Regions from separate parts of the Homo sapiens genome. Here regions 1, 2 and 4 are each linked to region 3. The links come from fine-mapping of genetic effects on gene expression. A gene starts in region 3. Each other region holds a variant in brackets. All regions are shown on one strand. Distances are from middle to middle. Region 1 has its middle 87 kb from the start of TMEM106B. Region 2 overlaps LOC124901589 (a long non-coding RNA gene). Region 3 holds the start of VWDE (von Willebrand factor D and EGF domains). Region 4 has its middle 86 kb from the start of VWDE.

The links. PIP is the estimated chance that this variant, and not a neighbour inherited with it, causes the effect. A credible set is the group of variants that fine-mapping cannot tell apart.
Region 1: its variant is the best candidate, but not a certain one, in a credible set for the expression of VWDE in atrial appendage (GTEx, PIP 0.76).
Region 2: its variant is the best candidate, but not a certain one, in a credible set for the expression of VWDE in whole blood (TOPMed, PIP 0.65).
Region 4: its variant is the best candidate, but not a certain one, in a credible set for the expression of VWDE in lung (TOPMed, PIP 0.87).

Annotation. Positions count from the first base shown.
Region 1 is chr7:12,294,661-12,302,291 of GRCh38, forward strand. No RefSeq gene overlaps it. Among named protein-coding and RNA genes, the nearest start is that of TMEM106B, 87 kb to the left of the region's middle. The variant T/C (reference allele first, on the strand shown) is at 4,932.
Region 2 is chr7:12,084,396-12,092,026 of GRCh38, forward strand. The region is part of intron 1 of LOC124901589 (a long non-coding RNA gene); the gene reads right to left. Among named protein-coding and RNA genes, the nearest start is that of TMEM106B, 120 kb to the right of the region's middle. The variant T/A (reference allele first, on the strand shown) is at 2,977.
Region 3 is chr7:12,401,614-12,408,996 of GRCh38, forward strand. It overlaps VWDE (von Willebrand factor D and EGF domains), which reads right to left and starts at 2,252. Exons shown (of 29, transcript NM_001135924.3): 1 at 2,046-2,252. The coding sequence starts at 2,103. LOC105375154 (a long non-coding RNA gene) reads left to right here and starts at 4,525. Exons shown (of 3, transcript XR_927035.4): 1 at 4,525-5,716; 2 at 5,925-6,043; 3 at 6,203-6,813. RefSeq lists enhancers at 1,540-2,107, 2,108-2,673 and silencers at 1,810-2,104, 1,998-2,047, 2,985-3,174.
Region 4 is chr7:12,313,907-12,321,537 of GRCh38, forward strand. No RefSeq gene overlaps it. Among named protein-coding and RNA genes, the nearest start is that of VWDE, 86 kb to the right of the region's middle. The variant A/G (reference allele first, on the strand shown) is at 3,488.

The sequences.
Region 1 (7,631 bases), 110 kb before region 3:
ATACTATCAAAAGGCACTTCAGAAAACTGTCTCTCAAGACACTCATCTCCCTGGATTACTTTTCTTTCCAGAAATGTTCCTTTGAAGCTGGGTTTAATCCCCTTCAAAAAGATATATAGATGGCCTTTTCTCATTAATGATTTCTTGCTAGACCAAGAAACCTCTGGTTTGATTAAATATGTAACTTCTTTGGCCCATTTCCAACAGGAACTAAAACTGTCGGAAGCCCAACCTCATGAACTAGGGCTACTTCTGTTCAACCCATGGGACTTAGTTCTGATCAAGGCACTTCCTTCCTTTTCTCTCTCTCTACGCCCATGTTGGGAGGGATCTTACACTGTACTTCTTTCTACTCCTTCAGCAGTGAAAGTCACTGGAATAGATTCTTGGATTCATTATACTTGAGTAAAGACCTTGGAAAGTGACTTTCCTCTGTTGACCCAGAGGAGCACCCGAAGCACCAGTGTGAAGAAATTGGAGACCTCAAGCTAAAGATCACAAAACATAAGTGTCACTAACATTTTATGGATATCCTCTTTATAGTCTCACCTATGCTTGCTGTTCTTGCCTTCATTCTATTCCTCACCATAAGGCATCTTTGCCAAAAATCCCTTAATCCTGAAAGCCCATGGCATTATCTACTCCCCTAAACAGCTATCTCTTTTCTGAAGTTTAGCTTCCCTACCCCCATTAAAGACTTACTTTCACCAGGGTGAAACAGCTCTGATCAAAACATTGTTTTCAGAATGATTAGTATAATACTCATATTTGATCCATGCATACTTAACCTCCTTTTAAAATTTGTTTCTTCTTACCTAGAGACCATCAAACTCCAAATGGTCATGGAAATAGAGCCTCAGATGATGGCTCTTTTTACCGGGAACCCATAGGTAGACCTCTGAGAGACATCTAACTGCTGTTTTCCCAAAACAATGCCCCTGTCAGCATGAAGCAGTTAGACCTGTCACCATCCCTGTAATAATGTCAGTTAGACGTACCTCTTCAGAGGGGGGATTGATAGTGACAGTAAACAGTCAAATTCCTAGCCAGAAAGGGTCGTGTCCCCAGTGAAACCTGACCTTAGAGCCAAGGACAGTCTAAAGCCTGAAAACTGAGCTTCCTGTTCCAGGTAGAGTTCACAACCAGAGTGAGGACTTCCTTGATGCCCTTTAGCCAATTGAATGCTGCTTCTTCCAGGCCCACCCATGGATCAATCAGCATGCACTTTCTCATAAAAGCCTTGGACTCAGCCTCACAGGTGGCAACCCACTTTTTGTTCCCTTCTCACACAGAGGGCTACCCACTTCTGGGCCCCTCTCATGTCGAGAGCTTTTCTGTCACTCAATAAAATTATCTGCCTTGCTCACTCTCCAGTGTCCACGTACTTCATTCCTCTTCATCACGGGACAAGAACCTAGAATCCACTGAACAGTGGGTGCGAAAAGAGCTGTAACATACACTCCTGCTTGCTGAGCTACGGGAGTGAAAAAACCGCTGAGTGCCACATGCCCTCATTCTCCAACCTGCAGTGGCAAATCCAAATGAGCTGTGACATGTCCCCCTTTACTGAGCTGTGAGCAGTGGGACTGAATGTGCTGTGACATGCCCGTTTGCCAAGCTGCAGGAATGAGAGACAGCTGTAACACTTCTTGGGGCCTTGGACCTTGGAGCTTGGGAGTCCCTGGGCAAGATCTGTAGCATTCCTCAGGGCTGTGCAGTTGCTGGCATCTTTGAGATTTCAGTTGCTACTGCATTCCCCTCATCCAGATGCTGGTGCCCAAGGTGGAAGCTGGTGGTGGTATGACCGTTCCAGCTGCAGGCTGAGTGTGGATCCCATGGCAGGTGTGGGATCTGGGGCGGGGAACAAACCAAGTGCAGCCTGCTAGGCTGAGTGGGCAGAGTGAGCCTGGTGGGTCCAAGCAAGGCCCAAGGCAGAGGTCATGGTGGCCACAGAGATTTCCAGCTGGCAAAAGCAGCACTGAAAGAATCCTGTAACACTAATGTCAGCAAGGGTTGCATTATGAGTCTCAACATACATGCATTCCAGAGATGAATAGAAATTCTGGTTACTTATAAATTCTTGAGAAAGAAGCCTGGTACCAGCTGCTGGCTTTAGATAATAGGGAAGTCTAATTACTTCTAAATTTTTCAGATAAGGAGTTTGACTTTGGATGGTCTGCTTGATGGGCACTAGGCGATTTTTGTCCTCCTAAATTTGAGTAATAAAACTAATTTGGCCTTCAGTACAGCTAGCTCTGAGTGAATTAAACTCATTCTCTATTGCAATTTTCTGGTCTTGATAAATCAGCTGTGTCTAGGCAGTGGGCAAGGAGAACCCGTTGGATAGTTACAAAACCAATACCCCAAAATATGATGTTTTGGCATGTTGAACTGAAGAAACCTCAAGGCCTCTCTGACCTCCCCCATTATTTAATCAATCTGCCCCATGTTAGTGATATTCAGTGAAACTTCAGGGGGCCAAAGGCCATGGCCCCCACAAAAGCAAAGCTTCATTTAAACACTATCTTTTCAAAAGAAATACATTGGTGCTGTAGCCAATAATACCCTGAATTTAAAGTTTCTCCTTAAATTTAAAACTTCTAAGACAAGCTTAATTTACCAACTCCAAAACATAGGTACTAAAACTTTTTAGTCTCTTGGATTGTTAGAGTCCAGATCTTAACTGGATTTTTTTTTCTTTCCCGATTTAAATGTTCTACAATTTAATAGCTGAACTATGTTTTATATGTGATGAAATATTGATGATAATTTAAGACACCTTCAACCTAAGAACTAGAAACATGACTATTAAACAATTGTCACATCAGCATTTATGATTTTATTTCTGGTCATTTTATTTATTTAAAAGCACAGTGAGGTCAGAAGGAAAGCTCAAGAATGGGGAGCAGGGTACAGTGGATTTTGGAGTGTGAAGGAAATAAAAAATTTTACCCCAAAATATATTAATTTGGCATATTTTTAAGTGGCCCTGCAAAGCTGTCTTCTGTGGGGGAAATTTGCATTTGTAGATGTGCAGAGAATCTACATTAATGCAGCCAGCCCGTCTCTTATTCAGATTAACTGAGAAAGATTAACTGAGTCTGAAACATTCAAAAGTCTGAAAAAGACTCTTACCATCTATTCTCTCCAAGGGCTGCTGCCTGTGAAGCAAAGCTTCATCTATATAACAACGCCACCTTTACTAGCTAAGCTTCCTGTTTCCTCCCTCCCAGAATCTGTCTTGCCACTAAGACCTGATTTACCAGCATAACCTGTTTTGGGTCATGTTCTGAGCCCACATTCCTTCTGCAACCTCAAGATGATGCATAAGCATCTGTACCACACTGGGGGTAAAATCTTCATTCTGAAGTCTCCTATGCATACATATTACATAAATTTATATGCCCTTTTTTTTTATTATTAATCTGCCCTTTGCAAGTTGGTTTTTTTCAGCAAACCTCCAGAGGGCCAAGGGTGAAGCCATCTTTACAAAAATTATAACGGAGGAAATTATGACAATGAAAGAGATCAGACCTAACCAACTCCATCTTGCTTCTAACCTTTAAGCTGTCCTTGTTCGTTCCTGGGCATAGGCTGAACTAACCTTTAACTCTGAAACAAAAATGATACTAGCCCTTTCTTTAAAAAAAAAAAAAAAAAAAAAAAAAAAAAAAAAAACCTTCTTGTCTGAGGACCAGTCTGCCTTTGTAGGACTAATAAATTAGCTACAAGATTAGAAATTAAGGTTTAGGGGTCACGCAGCCTCCAGCTACAACAGTCTGAACATCCCCAAATTGCCCCTGGGAACAACATCACTATTGTAAATCCTAAGATCAGTGCTTGAGATATTTTGCAGACCCTGCACTTGATGGATCACCTGACACCACCCAGAAGGGTAATGTAGTTCATCCAGTTCTATGATCCCACCCTGGGACAGAAGACAGCAAGGAAAACTCACTTCGACCCCTATAATTCTATCTCCAGCCTGAGCAGTTGGCATGCCCCACTTCCTGAGCCCCTACCCGCCAAATTATCCTTAAAAACTCTGATTCCCTAGTGCTTGGGGAGACCAATTTGAATAGTAATAAAACTCTGGTCTCCCACACAGCCAGCTCTGCGTGAACTACTCTTTCTCCATTACAATTCCCCTGTCTTGATAAATCAGCTCTGTCTAGGCACTGGGCAAAGTGAACCTGTTGGGTGGTTATAAGGGTTCCCCTTGGTCCCTACAGTTGGAAAAATTGACCTAGTTATTTGCCATTTCTCATCAAAATGATTGTTAAGTAAAATTTATAGAAAGCTATTATTTGAACTGGGCTTCTGCACTACGCCCAACAGGCCAAACCAAAATGAAGTTACTTATGCCAAAATGAAGTTATTTATGCCGAAGTTCAAAGCCACCAAGCCAAAACTAAGTTGTTTATCAGATCTTTCAAGAAATCAGGAGAGAGATTATAGCTGCAGGGGACAGGGGAAAACCTTCCCTTCACCCTCTGAAGTTTCACTGAAAAGTCAACTTACAAAAAACAAATTGAAGAAAAAGCATACAGATTTGTTAGCAATCATACAAGGGAGAACTACAATGTAATTACCCTACCCTGGAATGGTGTTCAGATGTTTTTATAACATCTTGAGGTTACAGAAAGAATAAGGGCTTGGATTGCTCGCAAAACAGGTTAAGGTGGTGATACAGTTTGGCTCTATGTCCCCACCCAAATCTCATCTTGTAGCTTCCATAATTCCCATGTGTTGTGGGAAGGACTTGGTGGGAGATAATTGAATTATGAGGGTGGGTCTTTCCCATGCTATTCTCATGATAGTGGATAAATCTCACAAGATCTGATGGTTTTAAAAATGGGAGCTTTCCTGCACAAGCTCTCTTTCTCTTTGCCTGCTGCTATCCATGTAAGACGTGACTTGCTCCTCTTTGC[T/C]GTCTGCCATTATTGTGAGGCCTCCCCAGTCACGTGGAACTGTAAGATGATTAAAAATCTTTTTCTTCCCAGTCTCGGGTATGTCTTTAACAGCAGCATGCAAATGGACTAATACAGGTGGTAAAGCAGGATATGAGAGGGGGAGAAGAGGAGGCCTGTCTAACAAAGATAGTCTTGCTATGTAAATGAAACCTACCCTCTCTGAGGATAGCAGCCCTCAGAGAGAATAGATAGTAAATGCTTTTAAAAACCTTTAAAGGTGTTGAACTCTCAGTTAATTTTTCCTTGATCCAGACAAGGAGAGGCCTCAGAGAAAACCTGGGCTCACTAATGTAGATATTCTACAGATGCAAATCTCTCCTACAAAAGATAACCCTTCAGGGTTATGTCAGTTTGCTCTCTCTCTGAACAGCCATCTCAAAATATGTCAAAGAAATCTATTTTGGGGTAAAATATTTTTATTTCCATCATAGCAGAATCTCCAAACAGGCCAGTTTTAGCCAGCATGATAAGGAAGTAACCTTTACAAGGAAAGCAATTTCAAAACACCAATTGTCTTTTTGTTCTCTGTTTCTGCTATCTTTAGCACTTTTCTGTCTATAAAGCCAAATAACTTTGCTCAGTTCATCAGGACATTCATTTTATTTTATCGAATAATGTGTTGTCTGATTCTAAAATTGCAAATAAAAGCCAATTAGGATATTTAAACTAAGTTTATTGTAATTTTGTCTTTTGACAGTATCTGGTTACCAGAAGAAGGGGACCCAAAATGCTGCTGAAAATTTATGAGACTTATTGAGGAACACAGGAGAGCCTCCATTGACCCCTTCATGGATCCCCTTTCTTCCTTATGGACCGCTACATGCTGCAACTTCATTTTGGATCAGACTCTGTTCTTCTTGCATTGAGTGTTCCCCCAACCCAGATCTTTTTGGCCTTTGAATCCAGGCTTAGATTGTGCTGTAAAAGAGAGTACCAACCTTGGGGTGTGTGGTTGACAAGTCACCGATAAGAGTGAAAGTCACAACAGAAACAGGATTGGGTTCTGTAGGGAGGCCTCAGGTGTTTGACTAAGTCAGGCAGAAACTAGCAGTAAATGGCAATTACCGCCGGAAGTATGAACTTTGGCTTTTGAAAGTTTTCAGAAATGTGTTTTTTTCTTGCATGCTTAGGTAGAGAAAAATTATTAGCTATGTTGGTCAAGGCAATCTCAGAGCCAAAGACACAAACTTGACTGGTGGGCATGCTAGTGGCAGCAAATTTGTGCAGGTCTGGAGCAACCTCAATTCTTGCTTCATCAGAAGAAAGAATTCAACTGAAGGGGCATAAGGCAGAAAAAGAGACTGAGGCAACTTTCAGAGCAGGAGTGCAAGTTTATTAAAAAGCTTTAGAGCAGGAAAGAAAGGAAAGTACATTTGGAAGAGATTCAAGTGGGCAGTGTGAAGGCAAGTTCCCCATTTAAACTTGATCCTAAGACTTTTATGTGCTGGCCCACTTCTGACCTCTTGCATCCCTTTCCCTACATTCTTTCTGAAGGGTGAGCTGCCCACATGTGCAGTGCCCTCCTTATGCTTGGGAGGTGAGCATGCACAGTGTGTTTAGGAAGTTATATGCATGCCCACCTGGGTTTTCCCTTTTCTGGTGGAATGCCCCCAGAAAGCCATACTCTGCTATTTTGTCTCTTAATGCGCATGCCTGAGCTCACTTGGCCAATTCCTGAGATTTTATTGGAAGCTGATTACCAATGTCAAGTGTTTTTATCTGTTTGGGAAATTGCTTCTCCCTGCTGCCTGCAATTAATTATCACTTTAGTTTGAAAACTGTCAACCATCAGGAAGTTGCTTCTCCCTGGCACTGGCTGCCAATTATCATTTTTAGAGAGCTACTGTGATAGCTGCTGAATGGTCACCTGATGATTGCCTGACGTTCCTGGTGGGGATAGGGGTGGGGGTGGGTGGAACCGTCTCCTGCCACGCTCATACCTGACTAATTACCAGTAACAGGCATGGAATAGGCACCTAAGAGGTATTGGAGCAGTCACCACCAAAATAAGACTCCCATGGTCACAAAAATGGGTTAGTTGATGTAGGTCACCCATCAGCTTCAAGAAAACTTTGCGCAATGAGGTACTCTGTGAAAGTATTAGAATACACAATGCTCTGGTCTTTTCATCATAGGATTTTATCTCTGCTCTGATTGACCCAAGGGCCAGAATAAAAACAAGATCCTTAATTTCTAAAGAACTGACCACTCCACTTTCCAGCTATGCCTGCTTTTTATACGTATAAATATTAGGCACTGGTAGCCTCAAATTTTTAAAGGCAAAATCTTTTTTAAGATAATGGAGAATTACAATGGCCATTATATAGAACCTCCCAGATGAAGAATACTGTACTTTAAAAAGTGCACTTAAAAATGAGGGGTACCAAATTAGGCTTACCCAGGGATTCCTATTGATGTGTGGAAGCCTCTAGAAAGATTTCAGTACAATTTTTATTGCATCTTTTAAAAGACTTGTTTACAAAAGGCAATTAAAAAGCTTAAGAGACTAATTGATTTAAAAAATTGAATCTGTCAACCTTTAGCATAGTTACTATTCCTCCCTAAAGGAATAAAGAAAGCTAAATAAAAAGTAATTTTGGCCCTCATGTAAAGAAGGTTTTCTTCCTTTTCAGAGTTATCCATGTGGAGTCCAGGCAT
Region 2 (7,631 bases), 320 kb before region 3:
GTTGAAAGGTAGCCACTTTACTTGCCTGAATTTATCTAAAACTTCAAAAAATTATATAGCAAGTAAAGAAAATGTCTTAAAAACAATGAAATATAATATTATTTCACCACTTTTCACATAACGGTCTGAAAACATATATATATATAGAGAGAGTTTGTCTATATATATGGTGTTTATATATATGTTTTCAGACATATATACCAATATATATAAATACTCTGGTTTTGTACCTTTGGTGTTTGTATAAATGTGAACACCAAAGATAAAAAAAATAATTCATTCACCACTGAAAATATTAAGTCAGATGTAATAGCAGAGAAGCTCCAAATTAAAGATTATCCAAGGAGAGTGTAGATTTTATTCAATAAGTGAGGCAATTATTCATTTATGTGTTATCATGTTTTTATCATGGATTTAGGTAAAGTGAAGATATCATTAAGTCTCCACATGGATAAAGGAAATAATGCTTAATATATACATTGCCTCTTTTAGACTATATTACATATTCGAATATGACATTTTATATTGCTTTCTATTATTTTATATTTGGAAGTCTTATTTTCCCACCAAGATAATAGTAGCATATTTCATTCTGGAAATTTCCAACTCGCATGTGTTATAATTTAAAAAGCATTTTCTATGTCAGAAGTTTGGAATTAAAAAATAAAATAATTAAACAAATATATCCTGCTTCCCTTCTTTAGAAAGCTAGCACAGAGTAACAACTGGATTTTCTGGGTTCAAGCTGCAGAGTAATATATTCAAGCTATATGAACATGTACAATATACCTAATCTCTCCGTACCCTCATTTCCTCATTTTCTAAAAACACATAATAATATTACCTACTTCACAGCATTGCTATGAGAATCAAATGAGTTAATATATAGAAGGGCTTAAAAAATTCTTGGTACTTAGTAAGCATTTCGTGTTTGCTATTGTTATTCTTGTGGCCATTACTATCAATCTTATCACTGATATTATTTTATTTTACATTCAGGTCTCTTTGTTCGGCATGTATTGCCTACCTTTCTGTACCTGGCAAAGTATTTCTCATTTTTAAAACCTGTCCCGAACTCCTAGAAAGAGTGTCTCTTCTTGGTGTTCCCATAGCACTCTTTGCATGATTTGGTTATTATCAACCAAATGATGTTGAAATTATCTATTTGAGTATCTAAAAGCCCCTTACACACTTCCTACTCCCTCTATTCTACAAGACTATAAGCTCCTCATGGGAAAGGCTCTTTCTTATATGTTCAGTTTGTCTGATGTACAGCTCTGTCACACGTCCCCAAGTCCACTCCAGGTTCAGTGACCCACAAGGAGGGATCACAGGACTTAGCATGTAGTTACTTTCCTGGCTATGATTTATTACAGTGAAAGGATACAAAGCTAAATCAGCAAAGACAAAGGGTGCATGGGGCAAAGACCAGAAAAAAAAAAAAAAAAAAAAAAAAAAAAAAAAAACAGGCACAAGATTCCAAGAGTTCTTTCCCTGTGAAATATTCAGAATATGCTCTTTACCTCCAACACAGAATTGTGACAACACATGTGAAGTGTTGTCTACCAGGGAAACTCATCAGAAATTCAGTGTCTAAGGTTTATACTGGGGTTTGGTCACATAAATACTCTCTGCCCAGTCTTTAGCAAAACTCTAGACTCCTAGAAGGAAAACCAGGTGTTAAACCACATTTTACACAGCTAGGCATACCAAGCCACTTTTTTCATGTAGTTAAAGTTTTATATCATTGTAGGGAACTGTTTACCATTAAAGTTCCCAGATGCTAGTCAAGGACCAATCTTGCAAGCAGGCATGTGTTTTCTGCAAAAGAAACTAGCACATAAAATATATTCAATAACAATTGTGTAAACTGAACTAAATGAGCTATCCAATGAAACAATATTTCCGATGGTAAGTAAAATAAACCCAACTCTCAAAATGTCATATAACTTATAATGTGAAAAAAATGTTAGGTAGTCAAGTACACATTCACCTAATAAACATTTTTGGACACTCAGATACTGTAATATGTATTGTATTAGGTATGAGACTCTTAAAAATCCAAATACATAGAAGTGATATATAGAATGCTGGCTACAGAAGTGCAGGAATGGGGAGATGTTGGTCAAAGGGTACAAAGTTGCAGTTACGCAGGATGTATCTGGAGATTTCATACACAGCACGATGACGATAGTTAATAATATCATTTTGTGTACTGGCAATTTGCTAACAAAGTAGATACTAGGTGCTCTTACCACACACACACACACAAAGGTAACTATGTGAGGAGAGAGATTCGTTAATTTGGTCAACTATAGTAATCATTTTACTAAGTATATGTGTATTCAAAAAATCACGTTGTACACCTTATAGACCATAAAAAAGAAAAAAAGACAAAATAACTGAATCTAATATATAACGTGCTTTTTATATTTTTGCTTGATTTTCAGAAATTGAGGGAAAAAAATACTCTCCACAAAAACAGGCAAACAAAATCCTGAAATGGGTCAAAAGCTACGAGTTGGAAGCAAATATAAAAGCTGGGTTTGGCTTGGGGGTTAATCGCAGTATTAGCACTGGGACTGGAGCTCTGCTCTGGCCTTGCTACAAAGTAGGAGAGCTACATGGGAGCTGGTTGAGGATGAGGGGTCAGAATAAAAAAAGCCTTCTGTAAGCATGTACACTCTAAGCATTTTCTCTCCTCTCCCACTCTAAGCATGTACAGACCTCCTTAACATTTCCTTATCTCAGATACTTTTTGCTGGGTATAAAACAAAAGTTATTTTAAGTCAAGTTTCCTTCTGTGTTTTTGTTTTTTGTTTTTTTTTTGTAAAAGTTTAAAATGAAGAAAAAGATAAGTCTAGGTATCTTTAGTCACAGTAAAAAAAAGGAAGAGTGTTTTTAAGAGCAGTTAAAGGGAACCCCAGCAAGCAATGTGGACTAGTGGAACAGAACCACGCATACAGTCAAATCAAA[T/A]GAACTAAGAAGCAACATCCTGACTAGCCAAGAATTATAATGGCATCTCATTATATTATATGATATGTTCACACGTAGAGTGCTGCTGACTGGCAGAGCAATGACCAGATACCTTGGATAAGACCAAGATATCAGGCTGATCTTTACTGAAGGTGTAATATGGCTAAATATCAGCAATTTTATAGAACCTTATCTATTAAACATGGATTAATGTGAAGTAATAATCTTAAAACTTAACACATACAGTTGATATCGCAGCATTTATTCATGTGATAATAAAGATTTTGGTACTGAATAGACATGGACATACTATATTGGACTATGTGTATGTATCAGCACACACACATGTGTACAGGGATTGGTAAAGATGGTGGGAACAGAGAAATTAAAAAGAAATAAGAACAAAAAAAGGAATAGGCAAACTCCTGGTCTTGAACATAAAAATCCTGTTATATGGACAGTGCTTTGGAGTGGGGCAGAGAAAGAGTGACATTTTTATCAAGTGTTCTTGTAAAACATTGCAGTACTCCCCAATTTGTAATCTCCATCCACACTCACCATTCTGAGAATAAATCAGCCACATCAATGAGGCAGCATTTGGTCTTTAATGTGAATGCCACATTTTCTAGCATTTCTATCTATATGTAGATATATAATGGAGATGATGAAATTCTTAATTTCTTAGTCTTGAAAGATAAAAATTGAAGGAGGTCAGATTATAATATTTAATGAGTACCTTTATGAGCCAGACATTGTTCTAAAATTTTATATATTTTATTTCACTTAATGAGCAGATAGCTGCTCATTGGGATAATTTGTTAACATTAAAAATGTGGTAAAGAATTAAGGCTGGAAGTATCAAATATGAAATAATACAAAAAGCTGTATATTTTTCACTCCTTAAATTAATTCAATTTATGTTGTGGTACCTAGCTAATATGCATATAATGACTTTTTCTGGTCAATGTAAACACTAATTTGTCTGAGAGACTAGTATTGATTGATGCAGAGCTATTATCAATATTGGAATTTGAGGGTCAGTTATTTTTGAAATGTATAACATTATTGACTGCATAGAGGTTATAACTTACAAAACACACAATATGGTAGAAAAAGATACATTTCAATATAAATCATTTGCCATTTCAAAGTTCCATTAATATAGGAAAACATAACTCTCAACTTAGTCATTTCAGAGACATTTTTAAAACAATCTCTAGATTTTACCATGAACTTTTATCCTCAGAGCTTTCTGCACAGTGTGGGTGTTGGCAGGAGGTCTACAGGGGCAGGGTGGGGAGAGGACTAGGGAACCATATTCCACCTTTTTCTTTACCATGATACTCACTGTGAACACAATCTCACTGTGGCCTGTATCTCCAGAGTGGTAAGAGGAACAAACAGGAAACACAGAAATAGAAAAGTAGACAGGGTACTGGAATGTAACTCTTCAGAATAATTTGTTCCAAACTCAAAGAAGGTAATTTAAACCAGCAAAACATCAGGAGCACCTCCAACCATAGGTTCAGGAATTGCACAGAACCCCCTTAGCATTAAGGGTTCCCATTTAGGCCCCTTCTGTGAGGGATGAGTGAGGGAACCATGAACCCTACGACCTGACCAGAACACATGACCCATTAAGTCTGTCGGGGATGGTTTCTTTCTAGAATGGGGTGTGTGTGCTTGCTGACAGCTCTTATTTTCTTCCAATGTGCAGGATTAAATATCCTGATCAGCAAAAGGTATTCCTGGTCCCCTTTGCTATGGTTCACTCTATAGCCAATACTTCTGAAAATAGTTTGTCCGTTTAGATTCCAGTGTACTGTGTTTGTGTTTTTTTAGAATTTTCAAGCCAGTGTGCTAAGGGTCACACAAACGATAACCATGGGAAGGAAATTGTATTAACCTTCATTTCTGCTTTATGTGAAAATGATTGAGACTGGTACAATTTCTGTAACTGTTAGACACAGATTAGGATTTGGCATTTGTTTTGTGAGCTATTATTATTTTAGAAATACTAAAATACATACATTCATTGAGTGCACTTTATGGATATATTAACTCATTGAATCCTCTTTTCTACTCTGTGAGGTATATGATACTATTATTATTTATTTATTTAATTTATTTATTTTTCAAGATGGAGTCTTGCTCTGTCACCTGGGTTGGTGTGCAATGGCGCGATCTTGACTCACTGAAACCTCTGCCTCCCAGGTTCAAGCGATTCTCCTGCCTCAGCCTCTTGAGTACCGGGTGCCCACCACCACACCAGGCTATTTTTTTGTATTTTTAGTAGAGACGGGGTTTCACCAGGTTAGCCAGGCTGGTCTCGAACTCCCGGCCTTGTGATCTGCCCACCTCAGCTTCCCAAAGTGCTAGGATTACAGGCGTGAGCCACCGCAACCAGCCCTATTATTTATTTTTATAGATTAAAAAACTATGTCACAGAATTTAAGAAATCTACCCAATATAAAGTAGCTAACAAATGACAAAAAGGAATTCACATCCACTCAGCCTGGCCTTCTGGTTCTGTGTTTGTGGGCATGCCACACCTCCTTTACTGAGTTACTATTCTGTTGTTTGGTGCTTGCCTAAGTTTTTCTAGGTTATCAGTTGTTAGAAGACAAACAATTTGTAAGGTACATGGATGTGCTTTGGTCAAGAATTAGGCCAAGGCAGACATCCAGGCCTGCATTACTTAGCGAGTTTAGGGTGCAGGCACATACTCCATTTGTTATGTAACCTGTTTGTTTAAGCTCATACTTGGCTCTCAGCCACTATTGTCTGTAGAAGGTATAACTGCCCTGCTGACACTGTACAGGATCTTGGGCATGGCTTGACATGGCGCTGGCACCCAGAGAAAGAGAGAGAGAGAATCAGAGCTGTCTGTCTTGCAGACGGACAGAGGACAGCTATTGCATGGCTCGTGCTGGTGCCCAGAGAGAGAAAGAGTTAAGCTGCTGACCCTGAAGGCAAGGGAGAGCCTGCTATGCAGCTGCCGGAAGGGCAGGAGCTGCAGAGCCAGAGCAGACAGCTGAGATAAAGGTGGACAGTGTTAGAGAGCTAATGTGAGTAAGCTGCTACTGAGAGACCTGCTAAATAAAACTACATTTCACCTGCCTATGGCGCCCCCGGAGTGTTCTTTCAGCTATCCACCCACTCCCCTTGGACCTCAGCTGGGGCTGGAACCTGACAATTGGCATTGTCAGCAGGATAAGGTGAGTGGGTCTTCAGCCCCTGAGGGCTCCTGGGTTGGCTCTGTGGCCGCAGCATGGACTGTGGTACCCAGTGGCAGCCATGCTGCGAGGAGGATGGGATCTGATGGAAACATGGGAGGCAGTGGATGGGTCTCCTGTGAGTATGAAGAGGGCACTGAAGTACCTGGAAGTGCACAGCACCAATGAGGAACATGCCTTTGCCAGCAGAGTCAGACGGGCATTTGTAACTGTGCTGCGGGAGGTGCATGCCCAGTTCCTGCAGGATGCCAGGCAGGGAGGAGGCTCCTCTGCTGCGGGCTCACCCTGTGATCCATCAGAAGGCAGAACATGAGCAGCCAATGGGACCCCAGGGGAGAGCCCAGGGCCCCCCCACAGTGGTGGAACACAGCTCTTATAGTGCTTATACCCCCACTGAGTTGCAGGAGTTAAGCAAGTAATCTCGGCAGTCATGTGCAGACTTAGTGTAAGTCACATGGGAGAAGGACATTGCTGCGCAACCCAGTCCTGCCCAAGCATTCCAGTTCACAGACTGCCTGCTGCAGTTAGGTGGAAGTGTAAAGCCTTTTCTGTTTGATAAGAGACTGACCAAGATGCCTGGCTTAGGGGGGCACTGGATGACCAAAGACCATATGTGGACTTGGCAATCTACTGGACTCTGAACCCGGATAAGTTTCTGGGCAGAGCTGCAGTTATTGATGGTTATGAAGACTGGTCAGTGAAAGCGAAACCTGTATCTTTGCATCTTGGTATCTGCTGCTTGGTTTTCCGCTCATGAACTGTGTATGTCTCTCCCATGCCTGAGGACATTCTGGCTGGGGATGTTTTACACGGCTTGGCAGCTGTACCATCTGTCACAGACTTGCTGGACTGCTTAACAATGGAACTGGGATTCTTGTCCAGAGAACCAGGAATAGTTTGCCTTCATTGGAGGGTGACAATGGACTTTCACAGTGTTGCTACAGGGCAATATGCATAGCCCCACTCTATGTCATAGTCTTGTTGATGATGTTATGTTAACTTCTGATTCTCTTGCAGATTTAAAAGTGGCAACGCCCCTCTTGCCTTAGATTTGGATAAGACTGAGGCAGCCTTTTCCAATAGCCAAGCAGGCTATTCAGCAGGCTCAAGCCCTGCAGGTAGTTAACCAGGGGCTCCCATTTAAACTTGATGTACATGAAATTACAGATAGTATTGGTTAGAGCCTATGGCAGTGCATGGAGTACTTGGAAGAACCAGTAAGCTTTTAGTCCCAGCTATATGGAAGGGAGCTGAGCTCTGGTGTTCATTAATAAAGAAGCAGTTAGTAACTGCATACACTGCCTTTCAGGCTCATAAGAGCATGTCAGGATGGGTTACAGTCATCATCGTGTGGACAACTTACCCAATAGCAGGATGGGTGCATTCATGGCCCCCCGGACTGGGATGGCACATATCCAC
Region 3 (7,383 bases):
TAGGTAGAATCCAAATCTCAGTTAATAAAAAGTGTTGATGGAAACATGAAGAAGTTAGAAGCTTTACACACTGTTGCAGAAATACAAAACAGCACAGCCACTTTGGAAAACATCCTGGCTGTTCCTTAAGTAGTTAATCACAGAGTTACCCTATGACCCGGTATTTCCACTCCTAGGCATATATCTCGGAGAAATGAAAACATACATCCAAACAAAACTTGTACCTCGGTGCTTTATAGCAACATTATTTATAATAGTCAAAAGGTGGAAACAACTCAAATGTTCATCAACAAATGAATGTACATACAAAATATAGTATATCCACACAATGGAACATTATTCTATCTTAAAAAGGAATGAAATACTGGTACATGCTACAAGATGAATGAACCTTGATAATACTGTGCTAGATGAAGTAAGCCAGTCACAAAAGACAACCTATTATATGATTCAGTTTACATAAAATATCCAGAATAGGCAAATGCAATGAGACAGAAAGTAGATTAGTAATTCCTTATCGCTGGGGAGAAAGGGAGGGTGATAGCCGGCATGCGGCATGATAGCCCAGGGTATAGTATTTCTTTCTGATTGATAAATATGTTCTAAAATTGACTGTGGTCATCGCTGCATATACCTGTAAATATACTCTGAATATACACATATCTGTGAAAATGAAAAACCATAGAGTCGCACACTTTGAGTGATTTGTATGGTATATGAACATCTTAATAAAGCTATTTGAAAAAAAGAAGTCTCAATAAATGCATTTTCCATTTACCTCGTCTTCTAGTTTTACTCCATTAAACATAAAGAACTTGACAATGTTACCAATGTTATGAACTTAAAACCTGGTAATGGGTAATATTTGTCTTCAGCAGAGAGATTACAAAGCTATTATATAGAGGCAAAAAAGGGTTATGCGGTCTATAGTAAACATGAAATCATCTTCCTTTATAAACATTGGTCATTTTTTTCCTGGAAATATTTATCTAACTGTAATGAACAGATATATGTTATTACATGTATTTTTTAAAGTTATTCATAAAGATTTAGTAACGCTGTAAGCAAACCAAAGAAGGACCAGAAAAAATATCATTGCAGAAAATAATAAATTTGATTTTAGTATTTTATTTTTAAGTTTTGTATAGGATAGTGTTTGTATTCCCCTTATACAAAGCAAACTTACATCAGTAAAATGAGTTAAGATCAAAAAATGATAAGACAAAACTATACCCTGGACTGCTATAAATGTTGTACATAATGTTTTTTCAAGCTGCAGATGGTTGAACACAGATCAGACTTTTTCTGAAAAACGTAAGGAAACTTGCAATATAAGAACAAGTCACCTTTCATTAATATTCCTATCTGTATGAACACAAAAAACAAGCAAAAAGGGCTAATGAAAGTAGTTTTGGTTTAACTTCACTGTATTTTAAACTAAATGTTCTTTGTCATGGATTAAAGAAGTAGGAGGGGAGTATTCGCTCCACAGAGATCTCTTTTACAGTGCCAAAACTGATTCTAACATATATATACAAAAACCATAATACAGTATAATACGGATATACAAAACTTAACTTGGTGATTTATTGTAGGGATAAAATGTTCACCAATGAATTATTTCTGAGGGTCCGGTTGGAGGTGGAATTCGTGCAGTATGGAATTCAACTCTGTTCTGAGAATTCAGGTCCACTTGCGGCTAGCATACCTTGCAGATCCGGCGAAAGTTTCTTACAGTAAATTACAATGACCTCAAAGAGCAGGATAACAGCAGGAAACAACCAAAAACAGAACCAAGGGTCGTAGAGTAAGAGGAGGCAACAACCGCATGTGCGCAAAAGAAAAGTGTAGAGTTTTCAAGCTGGAAATTGACCTTTTCAAAGACAGCAGAGGGACAGAGAGGAGGCGGGTGAGGAACAAACATCGCTTGCTGCCTTAAAACGCACAGGGACGCTCCCCAAGTCGTCCAAAAAGTCTAGCCTAGTCCCTCTACCGCCCACGCGGCGCCACTGCGCGCCCACCCCCGCGCGCCCTACCTCGCTTACCTTCCCCCCAGGCCAGGAACATCAGCGCGATCACCAGCACGCAGGCTCCGCCAGGCATCGCTGCTTCCGCAGGTGGGGCGAAAGGCGTCGCAGAGCCCGGGCCGCGGGTGCCAGGAGGATGGGGCCACAGCAGCCCCTCGGGCCTCCTTTCTTGGATTTTCTCAGTCTGTTGCTGCTTGGAACAGGGAAGCTCCGCGTCCTCGTTCTGGGGTGCACCCAGTCCTTTCGTGGGATAGAGCCTTCGCGTAATCCGTCTGCGACTCCTCCCTTCCCATTTTGGCTGCTGGCTGACCTGAAAGCCACGCCCAACCTGTCCCCATAGCCCAGCGTGTACCGGCAGTGGCTCCGCCGCCTTGGATGTCACCGTGCAGTCGCACAGCCAGGAGTCAAGCTACAGGGATGTAGCTCTCCGCCCGCTGCGTCTTGCTGTTCTAACAGAGGCTGTATGAAAACTTGGTAATCCTAGAAACTGCTCAGATGGACCTCGCATAAAAGAAGCCTCACAAGGTTCCGTTGGAAGGGGAAGTTTCCCATGATTGTATCTGCAGACGGATTCCTAACTGCGTAATGGGCGCTACTGGTTTGCACCCCAAGGCGAAGGCGCTGAAAATGCTCCTGTCACCTTAGATCTCAGTGATGAACGACAGGAGGAGGAGTAGACACTAACGTTGCAACAGTAGATGCCTTTTCTTCTGCCTCTGTGACAGGTTTTCAGAAGTGGAAAGGACCGCATTTAGACACTAGCCAAACCATGAGGTTTGTCACCTGTATTTGCCAGTGATTCCCAGAGCTCTTACAGTTGTCCCAGGACGCTTTAGCACATGGCCACACGACTCCCAAGGTTGACCTGGGAGTTATTAGAAGATCAGAGGGCTCTAATGTCTTCCCCCAACCTCGTTTTTGTTTTGTTTTGTTTTGTTCGAGACAAGGTCTCACTCTGTCACCCAGGCTGGAGTGCAGTGGCACAGTCACAGCTCGCTGGAGCCTTGAACTCCTGGCGTCAAGCGATCTTCCCCCTCAGTCTCCCAAAATGCTGGGATTACAGGCGTGAGCCACCGTGCCAGGTCTAAGGTCTTCAGAAGTGTGGTTGCCTCTGCAGAGGAACAGGGTCCTTTTTTCAACTGATTCTACATCTTTTTATGTCTGAAAATGAAACCTCACTGTCCTAGTTTTTCCCTGGCTGTCTCATTCCTTGAGTCTCCCATCCATCACCTTGCACTTGGTTCTCACAGAGCCTTTACCTGAAGAGGATAGTTTGGGGGTCCAAGTGGGCACCAAGGTTCCACCCACAAATTTGGAGGTTCAAGGTTGGCCTAGGCATGGTGGTGGAAACAGGAGGTGTCCAAATGCATAAACAAGTATTTTTTTAATTTCATATAATTCTTTATTTTTAATTTGAAAGGTAAATTACCATTTAAAATTTTAAAGCTTATCATCTCCATAGTAAAAATATTAACCCATATTGGAAATAATTTCTTTTTGGTACACAATACTTGTGTGTAGCCATCTTTCAAATGCAGCAAGGGCACCCAATTTTCTGGATTAAAAATAAAATATTACTTTTTGGTGGACGGTAGACAGGTGATTTTTATCTTAAGGCTTAAGTATGGAAGGGCAATATAATGTAGGCACAATGAAAACCCAGAGATTTCTTAGTGTACAGTTAAGTCTTTTGTTTCCGCTTAAAAAATTCTAATAAAACAGACAAGAAATTAAATGTCAGTTTTCTCAATCTATTTGTGAAATCACCAGGAACAAAGTAATTTGATGTGAATCAAATCATAGCAGGACTTTTGTGAATTTATTTTCTAGCAGTATCTATACAAATGTAGTAAACTTTTATACTTTCTTGGAGGACAACATTACTTATCTGACTTCCATCAAAATACAATTTCAGGTATCGTGGGCCTTATTTTTTTCTTCAGTTTTTGATTGTTTATGAGTTTATGAGTTTACAATAAACTTGTGCCAAAACCCAACTTCCCTCCATGTGACTAAAGATGGAAAAAACTAAAAGCAACTTAAGAATTTTTTTTCAAGTCTCAGTAACCTGGCTTGGATCTGCAAGAATGTATCAATTAAATGCTGGTTATATCACGCCTGTAATCCCAGTGCTTTGGGAGGTCGAGGCAGGCGGATCACCTGAGGTCAGGAGTTCAAGACCAGCCTGGCCAACATGGTGAAACCCCATCTCTACTAAAAATACAAAACATTAGATGGGCGTGGTGGCGTTCGCCTGTAGTCCCATCTACTCGGGAGGCTGAGGCAGGAGAATCGTTTGAGCCCAGGAGGCAGAGGTTGCAGTGAGCCAAGATAGCTCCTCTGTACTCCAGCCTGGGCGACAGAGCAAGATTCCATCTCAAAAAAAAAAAAAAAAAAAAAAAAAATTAGTTATAGAACTGTATGGAAAACAAAAAGTAATGAAAATGTTTTAATCTATGTCTCGTGAAGTTAATCAAAAATTGGTATAAGATTCTTTTTTATATTTTTGAACATTAAAAACAATGGATGCATGGTACCCCGCAATATAGAGACTGACAGCACTTGTAAAATGCAGTAAATATCACTGAGACAAATAATAAGAATGTCAGAGGGAAGAAGAAATGAAGCCAAGTGCTAATAAGTACAATATAGCTTAAATTAAAAGATTAACAGGAGAAAATTTTCAAATGATAATTTTCTAGGAAAAGGAGATAACTCAGTTTTTGTCAGGTTAATTTACAAAGTGATGGGCTTGAGTGAAAAAAAATACCAAATTCAAGGGGCAGAAAAACCCAGTGATTAAGTCCACAAATCCTAGGTTAAAAACACCTGGGCTGTAATTCTAGATCTGCTACCTATTTATCAGAAGTGTAACCTTGAACAGCACACTCAACTCCTCTTAACCTCATTTTTCTGTACAATAGAAATGACAATAATAGTACCCCATAGACTTAAAGAATCAAAAGTGTATGTGCATGCCTGTGTGTGGCTGGGAGCGTGGAAGAGCATCTGGAGAAAGAGCACTCAGAATAGCATTTGGTCCAAAGTAGCTATTATGGTCGAATGTAACAGTTTACTGTTATTAGAACTAGGGTAATATTCTACATAATTATACTTTCTCTTATGTCTTATTATATAAAGGTGCATCATTTCTTGGCACTACTCTATTACAGTGTCTGCACAGTTTGGAGTAACCTTCCTGGAAAATACATATTTATGTAACATATGAATTCCTCATCCCATGTTTTACTAAATGAGTGAGCCCTTTTCCAGAAATGTAAAATTGATAGGATTGCTTCTGGGGTTTACTTGAGCTGAACACAAGTACACTCAGAAGCAGAGGCTAAAACATACAGCAGGTCCTTGGTCATTTTGTTTAACGTTATTTTGTTATAACACTGATGGAAAAAATCGATTTCCAGCAGAGGCCAATGTCTATGTGGAATTGGCACGTTCTTTCCATGTCTATGTGGGTCTTCTCTGGGTACTCCCGTTTCCCTCCACTTCTCAACTCTCTGTGTGTTGGGTGAATTGGCATGTCTACATAGGCCCTGCTTGAGTGATTGTGGTTGGGTATGTGAGCGCGCCCTGCGGTAGGATGGCTTCCTGAAGAGAGCTGGTTTACACCTCATGCCCTGAGCTCCTGGTGTAGGATCTGGCCACCTGTGATCCTGAACTGGAGTAAGGAGGTAAATAATTATCTTGTTTTCATTAATCTTTACTCAATGTATGTATAGTTTATTTTACTGTTTAATATTAGAAGTATTTTGGTCTTTTTTTAGAAGTTGGTGATGTTTTTGTGACCAGAAATATGGTATAGTAATTTAACTCATGTTGATATCAATTTGTCTGTAGTAAAACTGGTTTCATTACATGTTGTTTCACTTTACATCGCAGTTTTCAATAACCTATGGACACCGTTGAGGACTCATTGAATGTGGCTATAAGTGTGGTCAAGTAATGAAAACTGATCAGCTGAGGGAGGAAAAAGACAAAAGTGGATGACCAAAATGAAGGTGAGGTGAGAAACAACATGTGAGAATAGAGAAACAGAGAAAAGCACTCATACACGTCCACACGTGCACACACACACAAAAAGACAGAGAGGAAGAGAGACAGACAGACAGTGACAGAAAGAGAGATATGCTAATTCCTGATGGCTTTCCACTCAACAGCTCCAGAATCTTTCGAGGACTGCCTATGTTTCCTGTTTTGGATTAGGAAAATGTGGCACATATACACCATGGAATACTACACAGCCATAAAAAATGATGAGTTCATGTCCTTTGTAGGGACATGGATGAAACTGGAAACCATCATTCTCAGCGAACTATCGCAAGGATAAAAAACCAAACACCGCATGTTCTCACTCATAGGTGGGAACCGAACAATGAGAACACGTGGACACAGGAAGGGGAACATCACACTCCGGGGACTGTTGTGGGGTGGGGGTAGGGGGGAGGGATAGCCTTAGGAGATATACCTAATGCTAATGATGAGTTAATGGGTGCAGCACACCAACATGGCACATGTATACATATGTAACAAACCTGCACATTGTGCACATGTACCCTAAAACTTAAAGTATAATAATAATAAAATGTAAAAAATTAATTAATTAATTAAAAAATAAACAACAAATTTAAAAAAAAAAAAGAGATACCCCCAATACACTGCCTATAAATTAAGGTTAAGTGACTTTGAATTTGTTTTGCTGTTGTTGTTTATAAACAAAAGAATATTGTCTAAAACCTGTTTGAAAATATAAACTGTATAAATTATTAAATATTTGGTTGTGCTTATGCATTTGCCAGAAGAAACAGAAAAATGCACTTGAGATTTGTATTGAAACCTTACAGTGGTTTGTTTAGGAGGAAATGGACTCATCATTTGACCACATAGAAGCTATCCAATCAAAAAGTTTCAGGGAAAAGTATGGTGTGTTCATTGCAGAATGAAAGAAAATCAGCAGTTAAGCTGATTTTGTTATGACAAGCTCAATATGTTTCACAAGAAGATTATTCAGTGCTAGAAAGTCTAGAATACCATTGGCTTTTCCTTCCAACTAGCCAGATGACCACCTATAAATGATTAATAACTTCATTGTAGACAGTTATAGAGATTGTAACTGAAAATAGCTACAGAAAAGACAAAGATTCAGTGGTACTGAAGCCCAATAAGTAATATTTGCCAAATATACCCCATCTCTAATTCTCATTCATAGGCTGAACTTCCTGTCTTATAGTTTCTTTCCTTTTTCTGCATTTAAAAGTTCCTTCTTTTTAAAAGTGTTGAAAATGAATGAGAAAAAGCTGGATAGGAATGAAGAGAGAACCAATTTTGTTTCATTAAACAT
Region 4 (7,631 bases), 88 kb before region 3:
ACAAGAGAGTTGAGAGGAGTTAAACTGGTGAATCATATATTTGAAATGAAGATCAACAGTGATTTACATTTAGTTTCTTAGTTATGAGAATTTCAAGGGTAATAACCAAAAGCCAGTTAAAGAAAAAAGATGAACCAAGAATCAAACAAACGTAACATCTCTATCAATCCAAAATAAAGCAAGAAAGGAGAAAAAAATAGCAAAAGAAAAGCAACACAAAACAAAATGTTGCAAATAAGTCAAAATGTATTTTTAACCACAATAATTTAATTATTTTCAGTTGAAATATAGAATGCTCAGAATACAATAACCCAAAGTAAGGTGTGTTGGTGTGCTAAGCACATTGAACAGAAAGGCTTCAGAAGGACCTCAGAAGGAAGGTCTCTCTGACCTTCTCCCATCCTCCTATCTCCAGCCCATCTTCATTCACCTGAGCAATTCATAGAAATCAGACTTCCTTTTCTTCAAAGTGAATCATTGAAACTAGAACTCTTCTCCCCACACACAAACCATAAAACCCAGAAGGGTCATTCACACTTCTCATTTCTCCCTTGAAGATCCTCATTTCAGAGGAGTGCTGTCCAATACTCAGAAGAAATGCTACACAGAGAGCTTAAGAATCTGAACAGACAGGACTTGTTGAGTTTCCCCCTTCAGTTACCATTAGATTATACCCTTTTATATTAGATGAAACCCTTTTATCCAGTTACATTTCTACATGCCTGTTCATTTTTCATGGAACCTAAATATAAAAATAGACAGTTGTCCTTGGGTCTTTGGGTCTTCATTTCTGAAGTCTCCTGTGTCATGTAAAACTTTGATTAAATAAAGTTATTATGCTTTTCTCTTGTTAACCTGTCTGGTTATAGGAATATTGGCTGTGACTTTTATGATTGGTAAGGATAGGTATTATATCTTTCCACCCTAGTATTTACAAAGGAATTTCAGGTTGAAATTGAATTTATGTGGTACACATAAAACCTAAGATAGACAGGCTGAAAGTACAGTAGAAAAAGATTAGAAAAATATTTTATTTAAAAAACAGGGTAGCTATAGCAATATCAATCAAAATAACCTTTAAGCAAAAGTATTATTAGGAATAAAGAGGTCAGAACATTTATTGATTTAGAAACAGCTATACAATGTTAAATGCATGCCAACCATTGTTGTAGGCACACAAGCAGGCTTATAAGTATTAACTTATTTAGTTCTCATTTCAATTTTATTAGGTAGGTATTATTTCTATTTACCTTTCCATCTTTTCAAACAAGGCAATGGATGAAGGAAGCTTAAGCAATTTGCTCAGTCACACAGTCAATGAGGAGAGAAATCTGGACTCAATCCAGAAAGCAATCTGGCTCCAGGGTCCTTGAACTTAACCACTATGCAATGCTGTCTAAGAGGCTTAGCTAGCATACTATAAACTTGTATGCACCCAATTTAATGGCCTCAAGCATAGAAAGAAAAATTTGATAAAACTACAGGGAAAAGTAGACAAATATAAAATAATAAAGACATAGTTCAACATATTTTAAATTACTACAAGCTTAGGCAAGCAAAAAATTTGCAGGATAAAGAATTAAAGAAGTCCTAACCAGAGGAATCCAACAAGAGAAAGAAAGAGCATGCAAATTAGAAAGAAGTCAAATTATTTTTTGCAGATAATATGATCTTATATTTTAAACCCAAAGACTCCATTAAAAAAAATACTATTAGAACTGTTAAACAAATTCAGTAATGTTGCAGGATACAAAAATTAACATAAAAATCTGTAGTACCTCTATATGCCAACAGTGAACAATCTGAAATAGAAATTAAGAAAGTAGTCATATTTATAATGTTATAAATAAAATACCTAGAAATAAACTTAACCAAAGAAGTGAAAGCGCTCTATATTGAAAACTATAAAACACCGATGAACAAAATCAAAGAGAACACCAAAAAAGGGGAAAGATATTCCATGGATTAGAAGAATCAATACTGTTAAAATGTCCCTACTACCACAAACAAGTTATAGATTCAATGCAATCCCCATCAAAATACCAATGGCATTCTTAAAAAATAGAAAAAATAATTCTAAAATTTATATGGGACCACAATAGACCCAGAATAGTCAAAGCTATTGGCAAACAGGTGTATGAAAATGTGATCAGCATCATCGAGCATCAGAGAAATGCAAATCAAAACTACAATGAGATATCATCTCACCCCAGTTAAAACGCCTTTTATCCAAAAGACAGTCGATAATGAATGCTGATGACAAGGTGAAGAAAAAGGAACCTTTGTATACTGTTGGTAGGAATGTAAATTAATACAACCACTATTGAGAACAGTTTAAGCAGAATAACCATTCCTATGTTTATTATTGTAACACTGTTCACGATAGCCAAGATTAAGAAGCAACCTAAGTCTCCATTAACAGATGAATGAAGAAAATATGGCACATGTACACAATGGAGTACTATTCAGTCTTAACAAATGAGACCCTATCATTTGCAACAACGTGGATGGAACTGGAGGTCATTATGTTAAGTGAAATAAGCCAGGCACAGAAAGATAAACGTTGCATGTTCTCACTTATTTGTAGGAGCTAAAATTCAAAACAATTAAACTTATTGAGACAGAGAGTAGAATGATGGTTACCAGAAACTGGGGAAGGTAATGGGGGTGGGGGGTAGGCAGGGATGTTTATGAGTACAAAACTATAGTTAGATAGTATGAATAAGATCTAGTATTTGATAGCACAACAGAGTACAGTCAACAATTTATCATGCATTTAAAAATAACTAAAAGAATATAATTGGATTGTTTATAACACAAAGAAAGGATAAAAACTTGAGGTGATGGATACCCTATTTACCCTGATATGATTATTACACATTATGAAACCTGTATAAGTCTCTCATGTACCCTATAAACATATACATCTACTATGTACCCACAAAAATTAAAAGAATTAGTGACACAATTTAAAGTTCCAATATAACAGAAATTAATACATTGTGCATCCTTTAAGAGAACTATAAAAGGCAAGGATAATGTATTGGTTATGTACTGCTGATGAACAAATTACTGCAGAAGGTAGTAGCTTAGAACAACACACATTTATTATCTCACAATTCCTCTGGGTCAAGAACTCAGGATTGGTTTAACTGAGTGCCTCTGGCTCAAGATCTCTCATGAGCTTGCAGTGAGGGTGTCGGCTGTGGTCTTTTCTAAGATAAGACCTGGGTATGATCCACTAGAAAGTTACTCATGTGGTTGTTGACCCGATTTTATTCTCTCAGGGCTGTTTAGACTGAGGGCCTCATTTCTCCTGCCTGTTGGCTAGAAGGCTCCCTCAGTCCCTTGCCTTGTGGGCCTTTTATAGGACAACTTCAAACTTACATCATGGCAACTGGTTTTCCGTAGAGCAAGCAAGAGAAAGAGGGAGTGAAAGTGAGAAGGAGAGAGAGAGAGGAAGAAAGAGAGAGAGACGAAAGCTACA[A/G]TTATTTTATAACCTAATATCAGCAGTGGCATTCACTACTTTTGTTTCATTGTATTTGTTAGAAGTGAATCACTTCTAACAAGTCTAGTTCACTCTGTAGGGAAGTAGATTACATAAGGGTGTCAATACTGGAAAGTGGGGGTCATTTAGGACCATCTTAGAGGTTGCCTAGCACAGGTGATTAACATAAAATACAGCAGGATTATAATAAAAGCAAAGAAGTCATCAGTACAATTGTATTGGCTTTGGCATATTTCTGAATTAGATGATTGAATTGTGGGTGTCCATTTTGTTATGCTTTATAAGTTTACAGATATAGTACTCTTTTCTTTTGTATATATAAAAATCACATAATTTTTTCAAAAAATAAGGTAGTCACCATCTTCTAAAATAAAACAAATCTCTAGCTATATGAGACTGACCTCTCGATAACTCCAGTTTTTACTGAAAATTAACCATTGCATTTCATCTGATTTGTGAGTTGTTGGGAAAGTTGCATCATTCCCTGTGCACCTCAAATTACCTATATGAACTGAACAGTGCATTTTAATTCTATCTTTAAAATAAAATGTTCATTAATTCAATTTGAACTCTCAAACTCAGTCCTTTAAAAGTTTCAGAATTTGTACATAAAAGACACTCTACAAACTTACAAGTAGGAAACATTATTTTATGGTATATTTGCTCCCACAAATTTAGGCAAATGTGAGCTTTTTGCTTGAATTATTCAAGTCTAAACTCTGCCATAAATGTAACCTGTAAATATTTAAACTAATGCAAACAAAAGAACTTGGTTTTATCATTTTGATATGTAGTATCTCTCTGCCCCACCACCCCCTTGTCTGGTGTTATCAGAAATACAGTTTGATAACATGAATCAAGCTAATAACATTAGCTTATGACTGATTACCTGTACAGTTTGGCCTGATACAAAAATTCTGCGTAATTAATTTTAATCTTACAATAACACTGGTGGGACTGTAGACCATTTCCCTTAATTTAAATACATAATTTGCAACTTGAATACATCTGCAATAATGAAATGTCAGAATCTTTTACTCTGAAAAGAGCATAACTATAAATACAACTAAAATTTTATACACATAACTTTTTTTATTAATTTTATTGCCCCTCTTGAATTAAGAAAAATAATGCAATGATTCTTTAATTTTCAACTCATATTATTCTTAAAGTCCCTAAATTGGTATTTCCAAAAAGCTGCATTAAGGCTAATTGAAGATTCTGCAAAAGATACATTATGAAACTAAGATAACTATAAAAATGTTAAGTAGTACAAATACATATAAAGTAATATATAAAATCTACTTAAATCACCCCTTACCTCCCAATCCCACTCCCCTGAGGTAACAAATCTTAATTATTTGGTATCAGTCTTTTTATACATTTTCTATAATACTAAAAACTTATGTGTATTCACATATATGTGTGGGGGCCAAAGGCTCTTGGAAGATTCTCTGAAAAATCAACTCACAAAAGGCAGATTTATAGAAGAAAAAGCATACAAATTTATTTAACATGTATACATGGGAGCTTTCAGAAGACTCAAGGATACAGAAGAAATTGTCAATGTTTATGTTTAGGTTATGGATAGCCATGTAGAAACATGATCGGACAAAAAGGGCAAGATATAATGATAATGGGCTGAGTGGGGAAACTCTGGCTGTCTAGATTCTTCTGAGCATGCATTCCCTCCTTGGTGTGAGGAAGAGCCCTCTCTAGAATGGGGGTCTCATGATCTACAGTCAAACAAGGTATGTCAGACAATTTCTTTATGGCCAGTTTTTACACAGAAAGGCAAGGGAAAAATAGAGTAATATTATTAGGTTTTATGACTAGCTTTGGAGAAAAGGGGCTCTGATTTCTGTGACCTGCCTTGGGGAAGAGAGATTCTAGTTTTTATGGCTAGCCTCCAGGGAGAACACGACTGAGAGACAGGGGAACAGGAAAAGGTCAGAAAAAAACTTTTGCTCTGAGGCTGCTGCGGAGGCCTTCATTTTAAAATACTGTTTTCTGAGCCCCATCATATGAAAACATATGCATTTTTAAATTGGAGTATACTATATTTATTGTCTGGAAATATTTCTCTCATCTTTTCATCTAACATAGTCATCTTCATACAATATAAGATATAGCTCTACATTAATGATTGTTTTATTGGCTATATAGAAATCTCATGGCTTGAAATATAATGATATAACTATTTTTCTATTAATGATCACTTAACATTTTATTATTTTATAATTGTTAATTTATCACATATAATTTATTTTTAAATTTTAATATTAAAAACCATGCTACAATAAATGTTTTTGGAGATAGAATTTTACTCTAAGCATTGTCTCTCTTAAATGGCTATTTCTAAATTTCCACTGATCGGTCTCCTTTTATAGCACTGCTCTTAAAGGGGAAATAACTCAAGTTTGGTCCTCAAAGGTTACACATCTTGATTTTAATTTGTATTTGTTAATCTAATTCAATTATTGTTCAATATTAGCTGAAGTATTCAGGCCAACTTCAACTCAAATGAGCAACTTAAAAATAAGAAAAAAGCTAAGAAGGTGGATGTTATGTGTTCTCACCATAAATACAACTATATGAAGTAATGCATTCACTAGTTAGCTAGATTTAACCATTTCACAACATATATATACTACAAATCGTGTTATACATGGCAAATACATATACTTTTATGTCAATTAAAAATAAATTTGAGAAAAAAGAAATAAAGTTGATTGTATAGTTTATCTATTTCAGAACAAAAACTGTAATATGGGAGTTTAAGCATGTTTACTTTCTCTGACAGTTTGGTAGGTATAATAAAAAATTTACCTTGTTTTTTTAAAAAATAAGTAGCAGTCATTTTAATTAATTGCAATGTGGCTTTTAAAAAGAGCTTGAGGCCTAATTAGTTAAAATCTTACATGTGTATTTTCAGCATGAGTGTTCTATTAGAAGCTAAAAACTGGTTACTCATTTATTTTTAACCATGCTCATCATTTTAGTATTCCCTGATGGTGGGGAAATCTAACATTCTTTTTCTAGCAAGTTGTCTCACTGCTGCTTACTAACAGGTACTGGCAGAGCCTGTAATCTGCCTACCCACAAAGGTTAGAAATGAATTTTGGCATTTTGGTGGACACTCAATATTTACCCACTTGGAAGACAACAATAGTGCTCAAAACAATGAGATATATAAATTTCCTTGTTCGGTTTAACGGTGGCTGGAAGATAAGTCACTCAAGCAGTGCTGACAGGTATTACTCTGTCTGAGATCTCTGTTCTCTCATTTGAGAAGAAAAAACAACAAATTCCTTGTCACCCTCTTCCTTTCTAGTGCAAATCTAAGACTGGAAGTTTTTTTGAACATATTATGCATCAGGACTTGATCATTAACTGGAAACTACCTTCTGTCCTCTCTAGTTCATTGCTCCTCTTGGTTCAGCCCTATGGATCTAGAAAAATCTCACCCTTGCTCCACACACAGAGCCAGGCAGACAGCCCAGAGACAACCCTCAAAGTGAGCAATTTAGGTTTTGTTCTGGTAGCACAAAATTCCATTTCCTCTAGTTATTTTTTCTTTTATAGAAATGAAAATAAAATAAAAGTATATTTTTCAAAATATTTGCCTGTGATTTATGTAAGTACCCACATGTTAAACCAAACTCTGTTGCTGCCTTGCAATATTTTCCTGGATTGAACCAGCCAGTATCCTTCAAGTCTTCTATGTAGGCCAATCACTATTAGAAATGAGTGGTCAGAATATATTTGTCTGTAATGTTTAATTTACTTCATCTGTAATGCTGCAGCCGGGGTATTTTATGGCATTACACTGGAAATGGCTTGACTCTTTGATATGGGGAGATAGATCTCAGGTCAAAACCCAAGGAATAATTGATTATTTTCACAAGAAGAGGGTTGAAAACTAATATCCTCCCCTCCTACAGTCCTCAGAAAATATCAGCCAGCAGTGAGAATGCATCATCAGAGAATGCTGATGTAATAGGCAGACAGATCAGGGAGATGAAGTATCACACAGTCACCATCTCCATTAACTAATGTAGGAGGAAGCATCAAAGTTGTCCACAAAAAATAATTGACAGGTCTTGGTGCCTAAAGACACATA